Linked DNA regions of Homo sapiens: region 1 is linked to region 2. A link means that fine-mapping ties the variant in region 2 to the expression of a gene that starts in the linked region. Tissue or cell type: aorta. Region 2 holds a variant in brackets; the other region holds the start of a gene. All regions are shown on one strand. Distances are from middle to middle.

Region 1 (2,752 bases), 930 kb before region 2:
ATCTTACCACTGCACCCCAGCCTGGGCGACAGAGCCAGACTCCGTCTCAGAAAAAACAAAAGAAAGTCCTGTGCTTTGAAGGTTGTGTGCATGCAGCTGGGAGGCTTACTAGGCTTGTAGGTTTTGTGGTCTGGGCTCCGGCTCAGGCCAGGCCATGGAAGCAGAGGCCACACGATCCCAGGCAGGCTGGTGGCTGGGCCCACTGATCGTCACCCGTCCCACAGTGGCGCCCTGCTCAAGCCGTGGCTCTTCACGGAGATCAAGGAGCAGCGGCACTGGGACATCTCGTCGTCCGAGCGCCTGGACATCCTGCGGGACTTCACCAACTACGGCCTGGAGCACTGGGGCTCGGACACGCAGGGCGTGGAGAAGACCCGGCGCTTTCTGCTCGAGTGGCTGTCCTTCCTGTGCCGGTGGGCACCGGGGCTGGCTGGGGTGGGCGGCGCGTGGGCCGCGGCTGGTTAGAGCTGACTCAAGCCTGTCCTGCCCGCCCACCCGCCGCAGGTACGTGCCCGTGGGGCTGCTGGAGCGGCTCCCACAGAGGATCAACGAGCGGCCGCCCTACTACCTGGGCCGCGACTACCTGGAGACGCTGATGGCCAGCCAGAAGGCAGCCGACTGGATCCGCATCAGGTGCCTGGGTGGGCTGGAGTTGGGGAGCTGCAGTCGGGGGCCCGGGGTCACGGAGGGTACTTTGCAGGTCCTGGGCCTGACCTCGCTTTCCACCTGCTCTCCCACAGCGAGATGCTCCTTGGGCCAGTGCCCCCCAGCTTCGCCTTCTTGCCGAAGCACAAGGCCAACGCGTACAAGTAGCCTCAGGCTTTCCCAGGGGCACCCTGGGGCGAGGAGAGTACAATAAATTTTATTCTTTTAAAATCCAGGCCTTTCTGTGACCCTGAAGCAGCCCCTCCTCGGCCCCCACCTTCCCCAAACCTCTTAGCTGCCTCCATGGGCCCTGCCCCAAGCTGGGTGCTGCTGGTGCCCAGAGAGGCCTTGACCCCCAAGAAGGTAGCGGGTTGAGGACCCGGGGGGCCTCAGCCTGTGTGGGTGTGGATCAGGGCAGCCTGCCTGGAGGAGGCGGCCTCAAAGCTGTTAGGGGGGTGTTGCTGGAAGAGGCAAAGGCCTGGCCCAGAATCCTCCCTCCCATGGTGATGACCATGTCTGCCAACGTCTGCCCCTGCTTGCCCCCAACACCCAGAACCCCAACCAGTGGGCGCGCTGCAGGCTGGAACCCGCTGCCCCGAGTAACCAGGCAAACAGAACCCCACCAGGTTCTCAGCCTGTTCTCCGGTTGGGCCACTTGCACTCCCACTGCCGCCCTCCTGGCCTGTCTGGACCGGGCCCCCCGCTGCCCCATGCAGCACCCCAAACCGTTCTGTGCCCCTGCAGCTCCCCAGGAAGGTTTCAGCCCGCAGAGTCTGGAGGGGGCTGAGGTGCTGGGCAACCAGCCTGCTCCCACCTGTGCCGAGCCTCCTCCCGCTATGGGTACGATCGGGTGGGTGGGAGCACCTGCTGGAGAGGGTTCAGGGGCCCACCCGCCTAAGGGCCCTACCCACCTGGGCACCTTTGTCCACAGGCTCCTTGAACCTGTATCATCCCCCAGACCCAGAGAAAGAGGTGTTTCCAGCCCCACCAGCAGGTACCGGCCTCCCCTGAGCCCTTGACGAGGCTGGGAGTGGGTTTGAGTGTGCAGGCCCATCTTGCCCCTGCCCCGTCCCTAAGTGGGAGCCTGAAGGCATGGCCTCTGCTCCCCATGCTTCACACAGGTCCCCCAGATGAGCCCCAAAGACAAGCTCTGTGTCATCCATCACCCAGCCAGGGCCCCAAAGCAATATCTATGTCGTCCCCCAAAGGGGCCCCCCAATGGCAAGGTTCTTGTGGCATCTCCCAAACAGGCCCCCAGGCTTGGGCTGGGCCCCTCAGGCAGCAGCTGCTCTCAGGGCACCCGCCTGCCGCCCACAGGTTTCCAGATGGCCCCATGCGGGTGCTTCTTCGACCCCCGCATCTATCGGATCGAGTGGACCACCCCCGACCTGGGCCAGTCAGCCCTGTATAAGCTGGCAGCAAGCAGCGGGGGGCCAGCGGGGGTCCCCTCCGCCCCAGGCAGCTACCTCCTGGAGCCTCAGCCCTACCTCAAGGCCCCGGGGCTGCCTCCATACCCCCACTACCAGCAGGCACCCGGGGGGCCCCAGTTTCTCTTGCCCTACTTCCCGCCTGAGGGCCCCGGGCCAGAGGCTCTGGGTTTTGTGGGGGACGCAGGGCCCGCCGCCTTCGTGGAGCTGCCCCTACCGCCCCTAGAGGAAGGCCCGGCCCCGCTGCCACCCCCACCCCCCAAGGAGAACAAGCCGCCCCCTGTACTCATCACGCTGCCTGCAGAGCCCACACTGCCCCCAGACGCCTACAGCCACCTCCAGGGTCACCTCGGCCACTTCCCTGGGCCCGAACCCCTGGCCTTCCCCGTCAAGGAGCTGCAGGGCAGTGGGGCCCGACCTGGGGTGCCCCTGTACCCACCGGGCCTCAGCGAGCTCAAGGTGGCCGAGGTCAAGGAGGGGGCCCTGCTGGGAGCAGGCAAGGCCAAGGCCCCCAAGACGGCCAGAGCTTTGGCACTGCCTGACAAGGTTCTGCTGGAGGACGCCATGAAGCTCTTCGACTGCCTGCCAGGCGCCTCTGAGCCTGAGGGTACCCTGTGCGAGGTCCCTGGGCCGGCCCTGCCTGACAGCAGTGGTGGGAACTCAGCCGATGACATCCGCTC
Region 2 (2,752 bases):
CCATTGCACTCTAGCCTGGGCAGCAAGAGTGAAACTCCATCTCAAAAAAAAAAAAAAAAACCAAAAAAACACCATATTCTGGCCAGGCGCGGTGGCTCATGCCTGTAATCCCAGTACTTTGGGAGGCTGAGGTGGGCGGATCACAAGGTCAGGAGATCGAGACCATCCTGGCAAACACAGTGAAACCCCATCTCTACTAAAACTACAAAAAAAAAAATTAGCTTGGCGTGGTGGCGTGTGCCTGTAGTCCTAGTTACTCGGGAGGCTGAGGCAAGAGAATCACTTGAACCCAGGAGACGGAGGTTGCAGTGAGCTGAGATCGCGCCACTACACTCCAGCCTGGGCGACAGAGCGAGACTCTGTCTCAAAAACAACAAAACAAAAAAAACACCATGTTCCAAACTGTGTCCTGCCCCTCAGCAGCTGGGTGGCCCTCACACAAGTTACTTTGCCTCTGTGGGCCTCACTTTTTTTTTTTTTTTTTTTTTTTTGAGACGGGGTCTTGCTCTGTTGCCAGGCTGGTGTGCAGTGGTGCAATCTCGGCTCACTGCAACCTCCACCTCCGGGTTCCAGCGATTCTCCTGCCTCAGGCTGCTGAGTAGCTGGGGTTGCAGACGTCTGCCACCACGCCTAGCTAATTTTTGTATTTTTAGTAGAGACGGGGTTTCACCAAGTTGGCCAGGATGGTCTCAATCTCTTGACCTCGTGATCCTCCCGCCTCGGCCTCCCAAAGTGCTGGGATTACAGGCATGAGCCACTGTGCCCGGCCCCCTCTTTTTTTTTTTAAGATGGAGTTTCGCTCTTGTTGCCCAGGCTGGAGTGCACTGGTGCAGTTTCAGCTCACTGCAACCTCCACCTCCCAGGTTCAAGCGATTCTCCCGCCTCAGCCTCCCGAGTGGCTGGGATTACAGACATGTGCCACCACACCTGGCCAATTTTTGTATTTTTAGTAGAGATGGGGTTTTACCATGTTGGTCAGGCTGGTCTCGAGCTCCCGACCTCAGGTGATCCACCTGCCTTGGCCTCCCAAAGTGTTGGGATTACAGACATGAGCCACCAGGCCCAGCCTGGGTCC[C/T]ACTTTCTTTTCTACAGAATGGCAATGCTGACCTGGGGTTAACACCTGAAGGCCCAGAACAGCACATGGCTTGTAGCAAATGTTGGCTCTTAACATTAAAAAAAAAAATTTTTTTTTTGAGACAGGTTCTCACTCTGTCACCCAGGGTGGGGTGCAGTAGTGTGATCATGGCTCAACTGCAGCCTTGAACTCCTGGGCTCAAGTGATCCTCCCATCTCAGCTTCCCAAGTAGCTGGGACCACAGGCATGCACCACCATGCCTGGCTATTTTTAATTTTTTGTAGAGACGAGTTTTCACCATGTTGCCCAGGCTGTTCTCAGACTCCTGGGCTCAACAGATCCTCCTGCCTCAGCCTCCTGAGTAGCTGGGACTAGGTGCATCCACCACGCCTGGCTAATTTTTGTACTTTTTGTCAAGACGGAGTCTCGCCATATTGCCCAGGCCGGTCTCCAACTCTTGGGCTCAAGCAATCCTCCTGCCTCAGCCCCACAAAGTGCTAGAATTATAGGAGTGTGCCACTGTGCCCTACCTCAGTTTCCCTTAATCACCGCTTTTTAAAGACCCTGTCTCTAAATACAGCCACATTCTTACCCCTGGGGATCAGGACTTCAACATAAGAATTTGGGGTTGAGGGGGCCATAATTCAACCTATAACAGCCTGGGATGAAAAAATGAGGCACAGACCAGGCGTGGTGGCTCACGCCTTACTCCCAGCACTTTGGGAGGCCGAAGCGTGCAGATCACTTGAGATCAGGAGTACGAGACCAGCCTGGCCAACATGGTGAAACCCTGTGTCTACTAAAAATTCAAAAATCAGCCAGGCGTGATGGTGAGTTCCTATAATCTCAGCTACTCGGGAGGCTGAGGCACGAGTATCACTTGAACCTGGGAGGCAAGAGGTTGCAGTGAGCCGAGATCGTGCCACCACGCTCCAGCCTGGGCAACAGAGCAAGGCTCTGTCTCAAAAAAAAAAAAAAAAACACCCTCCTTCAGATAAGTGTGAGGCTTAATCGGTTATTGTTTGTCTCCCCAGCTGGGACCAGGGCACAGGCTGCCTGCTTTGTGGCTGTGTCCAGTGCCCAGCAGGCAGCCTGGCACAGGGTAGATGCTTATTTTTTTAGTTTTTTGAGACAGAGTGTTGCTCTTGTTGCCCAGGCTGGAGTGCAATGGTGCGATCTCGGCTCACTGCAACCTCCGCCTCTCGGGCTCAAGCGATTCTCCTGCCTCAGCCTCCCGAGTAGCTGGGATTACAGGCATGCACCACCATGCCTGGGTAATTTTATCTTTTTAGTAGAGATGGGGTTTCTCCATGTTGGTCAGGCTGGTCTCGAACTCCCAACCTCAGGTGATCTGCCTGCCTCGGCCTCCCAAAGTGCTGGGATTACAGGTGTGAGCCACCGCGCCCTGCAGATAGATGCTTATTAAGTATTCAGGTGCTCCATGTCCGCTTCAGCCCAGTGGTTACAGAAGGGCCACCCTCGGGTACCACCTGCTTGTGTCTGGGTCTGTAGCATCAGAAATAGGTGATCCCTGGGTTGGAGGCAGGACAAGCCAGCCGCATCCCAGCATCCTTGGACTTTCCCTGAGACCACCTGCAGGGACAGGCAGCTTATTCATCCACTTGCTATTGAGTGCCTACTGTATGCCGGGGAGCTGTGCTGTCCCATCATGGTTAG

What was found. PIP is the estimated chance that this variant, and not a neighbour inherited with it, causes the effect. A credible set is the group of variants that fine-mapping cannot tell apart.
Region 1: it holds the start of PRR22, and the variant in region 2 is the best candidate, but not a certain one, in a credible set for the expression of PRR22 in aorta (GTEx, PIP 0.89).

Annotation. Positions count from the first base shown.
Region 1 is chr19:5,783,264-5,786,015 of GRCh38, reverse strand. It overlaps PRR22 (proline rich 22), which reads left to right and starts at 1,270. Exons shown (of 3, transcript NM_001134316.2): 1 at 1,270-1,485; 2 at 1,577-1,639; 3 at 1,963-2,752. The coding sequence starts at 1,356. DUS3L (dihydrouridine synthase 3 like) reads left to right here. Exons shown (of 13, transcript NM_020175.3): 11 at 225-413; 12 at 505-633; 13 at 741-876. The coding sequence ends at 813.
Region 2 is chr19:4,856,010-4,858,761 of GRCh38, reverse strand. The region is part of intron 4 of PLIN3 (perilipin 3); the gene reads left to right. Among named protein-coding and RNA genes, the nearest start is that of PLIN3, 10 kb to the left of the region's middle. The variant C/T (reference allele first, on the strand shown) is at 1,076.